Regions from separate parts of the Homo sapiens genome. Here region 1 is linked to region 2. The links come from fine-mapping of genetic effects on gene expression. Tissue or cell type: whole blood. Region 2 holds a variant in brackets; the other region holds the start of a gene. Each region is shown on its reference strand, or each on the opposite one. Region 1 holds the start of FKBP8 (FKBP prolyl isomerase 8). Region 2 overlaps AP2B1 (adaptor related protein complex 2 subunit beta 1).

The links. PIP is the estimated chance that this variant, and not a neighbour inherited with it, causes the effect.
Region 1: it holds the start of FKBP8, and the variant in region 2 is fine-mapped to the expression of FKBP8 in whole blood (TOPMed, PIP 0.99).

Annotation. Positions count from the first base shown.
Region 1 is chr19:18,541,356-18,546,733 of GRCh38, forward strand. It overlaps FKBP8 (FKBP prolyl isomerase 8), which reads right to left and starts at 2,218. Exons shown (of 9, transcript NM_012181.5): 1 at 2,131-2,218; 2 at 324-640. The coding sequence starts at 615. RefSeq lists an enhancer at 1-471 and a silencer at 2,034-2,463.
Region 2 is chr17:35,616,956-35,622,333 of GRCh38, forward strand. The region is part of intron 5 of AP2B1 (adaptor related protein complex 2 subunit beta 1); the gene reads left to right. Among named protein-coding and RNA genes, the nearest start is that of AP2B1, 32 kb to the left of the region's middle. The variant A/G (reference allele first, on the strand shown) is at 2,133.

The sequences.
Region 1 (5,378 bases), not on the chromosome of region 2:
CAGACAAATGCCAAAAAAAGATGCATTGATGGGGTTAGGAGCTGCCAGCGCCTGGCGTGCTGGCTGTGTGGCTCTGGGCAGGTGACTCAGCCTCTCTGAGCCACTGTTAGCAGATCTGGGAAACGGGGACACAGCACATTGTGCATGTGTGTGAGTCAGTGGATAGAGTACATCAATGTGAAGCATCTCCAGTAGTTGCCTCTGGCTGGTGATCACGGTGGTGACCACGTGACTTCCAACCCTCACAGCACAGATGGGGAAATGAGGCTCAGGGGACGAGAGGGCCAGGGCCAAGGGCACCCTGATCCACCTTTGCTCCTTACCCAGAATGTCCAGCCACTCTTCTGGGGCCGGGGCTGGGGCGGGCTCGGGCTCCATGGCAGCAAGGAACTCTCGGGCCAGGGCCCCAGGCTGCTCAGCCTCCTCCGCCGGGGGTTGTCCCATGTCCTCCAGCGGTGGCAGCTCACTCAGGTCATCCTCTTCCTCCTCTTCCTCCTCCTCTTCCTCCTCACCCTCTGCATCCTCAACCCCATCCAGTACCTCGAAGTCCTCGAGCGGTGGGACCCCGGCGGGCAGTGGGGCAGAGGGCTCAGAGGGTTCAGCACACGATGCCATGCTGCTGGGGGGACAGGAATTGGCCCTGGAAGTGGGGGGCAGAGATGTGGGTCAGAATCCTACACAGCCCCTCAAAGTCTCCACTGTACTGATTCCCCACACTGCCGATCACTTTCTGTGTAACTCAAGGGCTCCAGGCCTCAGTTTCCTCATCTATACAGTGGGTGTAACAACAACCCCAGCTTGTTGGGAGAAATTAACCCATGCATCAAGCCCTTGGCATCAGGCTCAAATAGTGTTAGCCATTATTAGAGCTAATTATTATTTAATGTTTACAAATACTCCAGGAAGTAGGGAAGATTCCCCTCAACATTTTGCAGAACAGGAAACAGGCCAGAGGGGCAAAGGCATTTGCCCAAGGTCACAGAGAAAGCCAAAGGCCAAAGGAGGATTTGAACCTGGGGCTTCAGGCCCTGTGGCTTTGCCTGATTATAAGCTGAGCGAAGGGTGCTGGGATTTTTGTGGAGAGGACAGCCTCCGAGGCCTTAGGGAAGCCATTTTTAGAGCCTCTAAGGCCACTGGGGGAAATTGAATCTTTTACCAGGGCCTCCCACCTCCAGCCTCTTCTCCAAAGGGGAGACCCTCCCCAAAAGCACCAACTGTAATCACCCAGAAACCCCAAGCGTTTTTTCCTTCCACACTCTGAATCTAACACTATCCCCCACAACCCCAACATCAGGGACCCTGGCCCAAATCCTTCCCCAGGAGACCATCCTCCTCTCATCAGGCCTCGGTCCCACCCCCTCAAAGCAGCCTCCTTTCCAGGAGTGGTCGAGGTCCCACCACATTCTACAGCCTCTTCCTTGCCCCAGACCTCCTGAACCAATAACCAACCCCTCCGTCCCCCAGGCCCCAAGCTCAGAAGAGTGTGGCACAGCCATCAAACCAGCCCGCCGCATCCCCTCCCTAACCCTCACCTGCCTGCTCCTCCCGGGCTCGGAGCCCCACTTTGAGAGACCCTCCCAGCCCCCACCCCCATAATTCCCCGCGCCCGCACAATTCGGCCTCCCCTCCCACCCCCCACCCCAACCACCACCGCCCCCAGCACGGGCCAGCTCCCCCCACAGCCGCTCCGTCTCGCCGTAAACACTCCAGTGTCCCCAGACGCCCCCCCCTTTCCGATCCCATAACACCCCACGCTCTCCTGACGCCCCACAGCCCCGGCCGGGCCCTCAGTCAAGCCGCGACCCAGGCCCCCAACGACCCACGCCTGTCTGACGCCACCAGTCTGGGGCACCCGACCCCCGCACGCCTCGGGCGCCCCTGGCCCTGCACGCCTCCATCGGGACCCCCCCACTGGATCCCCTTTGCCCCCAGTGACCCCCATCCCTGGCCACCCCCGCCCGGCCGCGCCCCCTCGGGCACCCCCGACCCCCGTGCCCCCCCGGCTCGCCACCCCCGCGGCCCCTCGCCCCGCCCATCGGCCGCAGCCCCCGGCGCGCTAGCCCCCGGACCAGCCTAGGCCAGGGCAGCGGCCCGGCCGGCACGGCGCCCCCAGCACCCCAGGACACTTGCCTCTGGCTCCGGGACCCCCACTTGGGGTCCTGCGCCCCCCTCCCCGCCCCCAGCCGCGGCCGCCGCGCCTCGGGAACCAGGTTCGGCCGCTTGGCCCCGCCCCTGCCGTGCCCATTGGCCGCCGCTGCCGCGACTGCCGCACCCGTTGGCTCATGCAGACGTCCGTCCCGGGCGTTGGCACCTCCCCCTTCCTGCTTGGCCCCGCGGGGCGTTCTTAAAGGGACCGAAGCCTCCCGGCTGCTGGGGCTGGGGCGGGGGCTGGGGCGGGGGCTGGGGCGGGGGCTGGGGCGGGGGCGGGGGACCCTGGGCTGGACCCCAACACGGGTCAGTATCGCGCAGCCTGTGCGACTCCTGCCTCTCCTCTGAGCTTCATCCTGACCATCTGCGAAATGGGGATAAACACCCCCATCTATGCACTCTCACCTTGGGGGCTGCTGGGGGCACAGTCCACTCTAAATGTTATTTCCTTAAAGAGTTCAAGCTTGACGGGCAGGGCAGCTCTGGGGTTGCTGAATGACCCATCCTGAAGCCTTAGTTACAGAAGTGAACCTGAGGGCCTGAGGAGGAGTGACGTGCCCAAAGGCATACAGAAACCTCCCTCCCATCCCCCACACAGTTTAATGTCTAGAAGGTTGCCTGGTGCATACTGGAGGCGCTCGATTACTGCTGCGCAGGCGACTGAGCCAGCAGGGCCACTGGGAGGAGTTCCTCCTCTATGCACTGTCTGCTGGAGGGTGATAAGGTCCCCATGGCTCGGGAAGAAGGTGGCATCCTTGATTAGCTAAGTTTTTGTGGATCTTGTTTTGAAACCGGGACACTTCTCCCTCCTTCACTCAGTTTTATTTCCTTCCTAGCAGTTACTCCTTCCAGAATTATCTTGTCATTATTTTGCTTGTGGTTGGAGGGACCATCCCTCACTCTGCTTCATCCTGGCAGAGATTTTTACCTGATTTGTACCCAGCACCTCCTTGAACCATGCCTGGCATCTATAGAAGCTCAATAAATGGGTAGGTGGATGGATGGATGGATGGATGGATGGATGGATGGATGGATGAGTCAGACACCAGCTTTTGGAGGTAGCTATCATGGAGGTGGTAACTGGCTTTTTGGAGATCACTTCTAAGGTTGGAGTTCCCAGGTTACCTCCTACAGGAAGCCCTCCCAACCTCCCCAAGGCAAGACCAGGTGCCCCCTTTAGCTGTCTTGGCACAATGAAGTTGATGAACGTCCACTTCATAACTAGTTTACTTGGGTTTTTTGTTTGTTTGTTTGTTTTTGTTTTTTGAGAAGAAGTTTCACTCTTGTTGCCCAAGCTGGAGTGCAATGGCGCAATCTCAGCTCACCGCAACCGCTGCCTCCCAGGTTCAAGCGATTCTCCTGCCTCAGCCTTCCAAGTAGCTGGGAGTAGAGGCATGCACCACCATGCCTGGCTAACTTTGTATTTTTAGTAGACACGGGATTTCTTCATGTTGGTCAGGCTGGTCTCAAACTCCCGACCTCACGTGATCCGCCCACCTCGATGTACCAAAGATTACAGGCATGAGCCATCGTGCCTGGCCTTTTTTTTTTTTTTCTTTCTCTTTTTTTTTTGAGACAGAGTCTCTCTCTGTCGCCAGGCTGGAGTGCAGTGGCGCGATCTCGGCTCACTGCAACATCCACCTCCTAAGTTCCAACGATTCTCCTGCTTCAGCCTCCTGAGTAGCTGGGACTACAGGCACCCGCCACCATGCCCAGCTAATTTGTATATTTTTAGTAGAGACAGGGTTTCACCATGTTGGCCAGGATGGTCTGGAACTCCTGACCTCATGATCTGCCTGCCTCGGCTTCCCAAACTAGTTTACTTATATCTCTGCCTTTTTTTTTTTGAGATAGGGTCTTACTTTGAAACCCAGGCTGGAGTGCAGTGGCACGATCTCAGATCACTGCAACCATGTCTATCTCCTGGGCTCACGCAATCCTCCTGCCTCAGCCTCCTGAGTAGCTGGGCCCACAGGTGCACCATCATGTCCAGCTAATTTTTTTTTTTTTTTTTGAGACAGAGTCTCGCTGTGTAGCCCAGGCTAGAGTGCAGTGGCGCAATCTCGGCTCACTGCAAGCTCCGCCTCCCAGGTTCACACCATTCTCCTGCCTCAGCCTCCCAAGTAGCTGGGACTACAGGCGCCTGCCACCATGCCCGACTAATTTTTTGTATTTTTAGTAGAGTCAGCGTTTCATCGTGTTAGCCAGGATAGTCTCGATCTCCTGACCTTGTGATCTGCCCACCTCGGCCTCCCAAAGTGCTGAAATTACAGGCGTGAGCCATCGCGCCCGGCCCAATGTTTATATTTTTTGTAGAGATGGGGTTTCCCCATGTTGCCCAGGCTGGTCTCGAACTCCTGGGCTCAAGCAATCCTCCCACTTTGGCCTCCCAAACTGTTGGGATTATAGGCGTGAGCCACTGCTTTGATTTACCTCTGCCTTGCCCTCTACACTGGCAGAGCCCCAAAGTCTGGGAAGGCTTTGTTCTTTCTCATTGTTATAGCTCTGAGGCTTGCACAGTGCCTGCCACAAAAGGTAGTGGTGGGGTCTCACGGAAATCACTGAGGAAGGAAGGGAGGTTAAAGGTGGTAGCATAGCAGAGCTATGTAAGAAATCACCTGGAGGGCTGGGTGCGGTGGCTTATGCCAGTAATCCCAGCACTTTGGGAGGCCGAGGTGGGTGGATCACCTGAGGTCAGGAAATCTAGACCAGCCTGGCCAACATGGTGAAACCCCGTCTCTACTAAAAATACAAAAATTAGCCGGGTATGGTGGTGCATGCCTGTAATCTCAGATACTGGGGTGGCTGAGGCATGAGGACTGCTTGAACCCCAGGGGTGGAAGTTGCAGTGAGCAAGACCCAGTCTCAAAAACAGCCTTTGGGAGGCTGAGGCAGATGGTTCACCTGAAGTCAAGAGTTCGAGACCAGCCTGGCCAACATGGTGAAACCTGTCTCTGCGAAAAATACAGAAATTAGCCGGGTGCGGTGGCACATGCCTGTAATCCCAGCTACTTGGGAGGTTGAGGCAGGAGAATCGCTTGAACCCGGGAGGCAGATGTTGCAGCGAGCCAAGATCACGTCACCGTACTCCAGCCTGGGCAACCTAAGCCTGGGTAACGTAGTGAGAGCCTGCCTCTACAGAATATTAATTAATTAATTTGGAGACACAGTCTCCCTCTGTCTCCCACGTAGAGTGCAGTGGAACGATCTGGGCTCACTGCAACCTCTGA
Region 2 (5,378 bases):
CTATCGTAGGATTGTTGTGAATATTAAAGGACAGAGGGCTTGCAAAGCACTTAATACTGGTCCTCATATGGAGTAAGCCCCTAATAATAACAAACACATATCCTTTTTTTTTTCTTAAGAGACAAAGTCTTGCTCTGTCGCGTAGGCTGGAGTGCAGTGGCACAATCTCGGCTTACTGCAACCTCCATCTCCTGGGCTCAAATAATTCTCCCACTTCAGCCTTCTGAGTAGCTGAGAGTACAGGCACATGCCATCATGCCTGGCTAAGTTTTGTATTTTTAGTAGAGACAGGGTTTCACCATGTTGGCCATGCTGGTCTTGAATTCCTGACCTCAAGTGATCCGCCTGCCTCAGCCTCCCAAAGTGCTGGGATTACAGGCGTGAGTGAGCCACCATGCCCAGCAGAAACATATATTCTATATTGTACAGTGATTGTAGTGCCGGATATTAATAATTTTAGAAGGGTTAGTATTTCAGTGGCAAAATTTACTTTTTAATTTTATAAGATTAAAATTTTAAGGTTAAGATTAAAACTTTTAGGATGAAGAATTTTAAAGATTAAATTTTTTAAAGCTCTGAGGGCAACTTACCCACAAATGAAGCTAAATCTAAGAGTACTACTTACTACTTTTACAAGGTAATTATTCAAGGGTGTACGTTTAAAGTAGTTCTCAACAGCAACTTCCTGAAAGCTGGATCTGTTGTGTGTTGTTTTGGTGGTTTGCCAGTATATCAAGGCTCATTTGTCACTTTAAGATGACCTCAAGGCTGTAATTTGGCTGGGGAATACTTTACTCTTAGAAATGGGGAGATCATAAGTGGTGTGATAATAAGTGTTTTATTTTGTTCAAGTTGCAGCTTGCTTTAATGAATTTTAGGGGCCATGGTCCAAATAACTGTGATGGTTATAGGCATGCCTTTTATTTGTTTATCGATATTTATTTGTAGTGTTTTGGCTTTGAGAGTACTTGAATTTTGTTAAATCATATCTTAAACCACTTAAGTAATGAATTTTATTTTTTGTAAACCTTGTTACTATGTAATCAGACTTTCTTTTCATAATGAGATGTGTTGGCTCACTAGGTAGTTTTACCTCTCATTCTAAGGAAGAAGATGGGGAAAAAATGGAATATTCTAGATTGTAATGTAGCAGGCATATTAACAGTTGGCATTCTAGACAGTGTTTTGGATTAAAGTATAAGCCCTAAGTTTTACTTGTTTGACTGGTACTGCAGTCATTGTCTCCTTAAGGAGATAATAATGACTGAAACTCTCAGAACAAATATGTTGTCCTATGCCTCACATGTCATTTGAGGTCATTCTGTAAAGGAGATAGCAATATTCTAACACTGCTAATTTAGAAGAGAACAAAAATATGTAAACCACCTGTGTATTTCCTCATAATAGTTTTGGTCAGTTACTCTACTTCTTTCACTTTATTCAAGTCTTCAGGGATACCAGCCAAAATAATTGTAAATTGAGCAGAAAAACTGAAGCATAAATCTGTTCATAGTGTGTGACCTTGAAGGTCATTGCTGGAAATCAAAGTCCTGTAAATAGTAATTTACTTAACAGGAAGAAGTCACTGAACTGGAAAGTGGTAAGTTTCTAAGGTTCCAAGGCCACGAAAATGAGTGAAATTAGAGTGCAAGGTGAAAATCATTTTAAGGGACAGGGAAATGGGTGAGAGATTCCTCATAAGTGAGCTTATGTGTGTGATATTCCACTCCCAGTTTATATCTAGATTTCCTTTGAGAGTCCTTTTTTTTACAGGGTCATTTTTATTCTAACCATACCTACTGTACCAGCTCACTCCTTTTTTAACAAAATGAGGTCAAATTTATTATCCTCAACTGCTGCATATAAGACAGGTATAGATCATAAATCATATTTTATAGCTAGGTAGTAAATCTTTCCCTCCCTAAGTACTGTAGGATATGATTATCTCTGAAATGTATAAAGTAGAATACATTTTTCTCCTTGTATATAAATCTACATGTCACCTTTGCTGGAAATAATGTTTGGATTATATTATCCTCCCCTACTCTGAATCTTCTTTCCCTTCCCTTGGTTGAAGTTCACAAGTCTTGGAAGCTCTATAAATGCTGGAGACCAAGTATTAGTACTCAGAC[A/G]CTGGAATCAGATGCAGACCTTGAGTTCAGATTCAAGCAGGAATCCCTTTCTGGCTGTGTTGACCCTAAGCAAGTCACTGAACTTCTCTAAGTCAGTTTTGTTATCTGTAATAGGTGGCTTTTAGTAGCAGCTACTTCAGAGTTGTTATGAGGATTAATAGCACAAAGTAAATATTCAATACATTTTAGCTATTCCAGTCTTTTATCTCTGTAAAACTCATTCTATTAGTATAATGTAAGTAAAAATACAAATTGCTTATCATTAAAAATTCAGGCTGGGTATGGTGGTTCACACCTGTAATATTAGCACTTTGGGAGGCCAAGGCAGGAAGATTGCCTGAGGCCAGGAGTTTGAGAGAAGCCTGGGCAACATAGTGAGACCCTGTTTCTATTTAAAAAAAAAACAAAAACAACCAGCAGATTCCACAGGTCCATAAGGAAATATCATATTGAAGAGAAGTCTGTAATTAAGGCGGAGAAAGATTTGTCTAGGATTGAGTATGATTTTACACATCTACATGTGCTGCTTTTATATATATGTTTGTGTTTAATATCTATCTCTGTAAAGTATACATAATTGGGTTAGCTCTTTGAGGGGATGTGAGGGGTGGGGAATGTTTAGTTTCAGTCTCCCCAAGAATAGAATTTACCATAATTGGGAGGCAAGATGAATAAAGGATTTTTTTTAGTTTTTTATTTTACTTTTATCTTTTTGGAGACAGAGTCTCATTCTGTTGTCCAGGCTAGAGTGCAATGGTGTGATCTTGGCTTACCGCAACCTCTGCCTCGCATGTTCAAGTGATTCTCGTGCCTCAGCCTCCCGAGTAGCTGGGATTACAGGTATGCACCACCATGCCTGGCTAATTTTTGGTATTTTAATTAGAGACAGGGTTTCACCATGTTGGCCAGGCTGATCCCAAGCTTCTGGCCTCAAGTGATCCACCTGTTTCAGCCTCCCAAAGTGCTGGGATTACAGGCGTGAACCACCGTGCTCGGCCAAGGATTTATTTTTTTAATGCTGCAAATGTGTCCCTTTGTCACCTGGATGCCAACTTTTTATAAATCAACTTGTGCTGAGGAAGCTCTCTTAAGAAACCCTATTTGTAGGCCAGGTACCTTATGGTGGCTCACACCTGTAATCTCAGCACCTTAGGAGGCCAAGATGGGAGGACTGCATGAGGCCAGGAATTTGAGACCAGCCTGGACAACATAGTGAGACCCCTGTCTCTACCAAAAAAAAAAATTAGCCAGGCATGGTGGCATGCACTGTGGTCCCATCTGCTAGTTCAAGATTACAGTGAACTATATGATTATGCCACTACACTGTAGCCTGGGTGACGGGCAAGACCCTGTCTCTTAAAACCAACCAACCAAACAAACCCCAAGGAAATCCTATTTAAAAATTCATTTTTAAAGCGAAACTTTCTCTAGAAACCCCCCTTTTTGGCTGGGTATGGTGACTCACATCTGTAATCCCAGCACTTTGGGAGGCCAAACTGGGAGGATTATTTGAGACCAGGAGTTCAAGACCAGCCTGGGCAATATAGCCAGCCCCATCTCTAAAAATTTAATTAAGAAACTTGACTGGGTGTGGTGGTACAAGCCTGTAGTCCTGGCTACTCAGGAGGCTGAGGTGGAAGGATCACTTGAGTCCAGGAGTTTGAGATTACAGTGAGCTGTGATCAGTGCGACTGCATTCCAGCCTGGGCAACAGAGTGAGACCCTGCCTCTTTAAAAAAATACAATTTTTTTCTTGGAAACTCTAATTTTTCTGAAATGGTAGCTAAAGGCCATTGTTCTCTTTCTGTCAGTATTTCCTAAGAGAAATGCCAATTTTTTGACAGGAGAAGTGTTACACATAGTTGTGTTAACAGTTCTAAATCAAAGTAATAGTTCAAATGAAAGAAGCACACCTTTGTCTTAGTATACAGGTGAGTCAAGGCAGTTATTGTAAGGGTTGGATTTGTTCTTTTGTGATATTATTGTCTAGAGAAGACTCTGGAGGAAGAGGAAGTAAATCTTGAGTTTCAATCTATTATTTTAAAAGTTTATTTTAAAAACGGAACAATATATATTCATAGTACAGAATTCCAAAGAAACAGTATAAACATTGACAAGTGAGTTGTCATGTACTCTCTAGCCACCCAGTTGCTGTCTCAAAGTTAGTCTTTTTCTTTAAGATACTTTAGATTCAGTGCGACTGATTTATTTTAAGTTTTCATTGAAGAGTGAGAGAAACTCGGCTTACGGACCAGGAAAACTGAGAGTGCTGCCTGGTGAGCCTGCCTCAGTATGTTGCTAAAAATGTAACAGTCTGACTGTGGAGATTAGGAGATGAAAGTGTAGAGATAGGATGGAAGGAACTTCAAGAAATTTTAGAGAAACATTAGAGTTTTGGTATAGAGGGGTAGGATAGCATCTCCTCTGGACGGTCACCATTTGGCAGTGATCTCTCTTATTTGTGCAGGCTTTGCTAAACAATCATCTAATCTGATCTTTCTGGATCCTTAAGTTAGACTTACTTTTCTCCATTTCATTTCTTGTTTTAATGTCATGATAAGTGGCAATTGCCTATTTAAACATCAGACCATACACTTCATTAGGTGCATTATACACTTGGTTTAATTTCCAGTTGCCTATAATAACAGAGGATTTCTAATTGCTCATTCTGTTTAGCATTCTTCTGGTCTTTTTCTCCCCATTGCTGTTTTTAATTCTCCCCCTTCTCTCGTTTTCTTTGTCTATATTTCCTATTACTAGACCTTATATTTAATCTTTTTGTTTTTTTAAACATGAAAAGGGTTTCACTGACAGAAGTGGTAATTTATTTCAGACAACTGGTAACCAAGACTGGGCATGTGTTGGCAACAATAAATCAAAACAGGCATTTGGCCTTCTGATATGATATTTTGATTCTTTAGACTATAATAAGGTCAACTAAGTATGTTGTGCAAGGGAAATAAAATATCTTGCATGTGAAGCACATGGAAGGGATTATTATTTCTCTCTTTATGGCTTTTCTCATGCTTGATGATAGAGTTAGCAAACAAAAATTAAGTCAGAAAAGAGCCTCATACATGTTACCATCCAGTAGGTGGGCTAGATAAGTTTTCCTGATTTGTCTTAACAAGTATAAAATAGTATATCTGTAACCATATTTACCAAGTGAGTCTCTGATTTTTCATCTTAGCATCTTTGTTCTGATCACCAAAGTATAGCTTGAGATGATTGCATTTGTGGCATCAT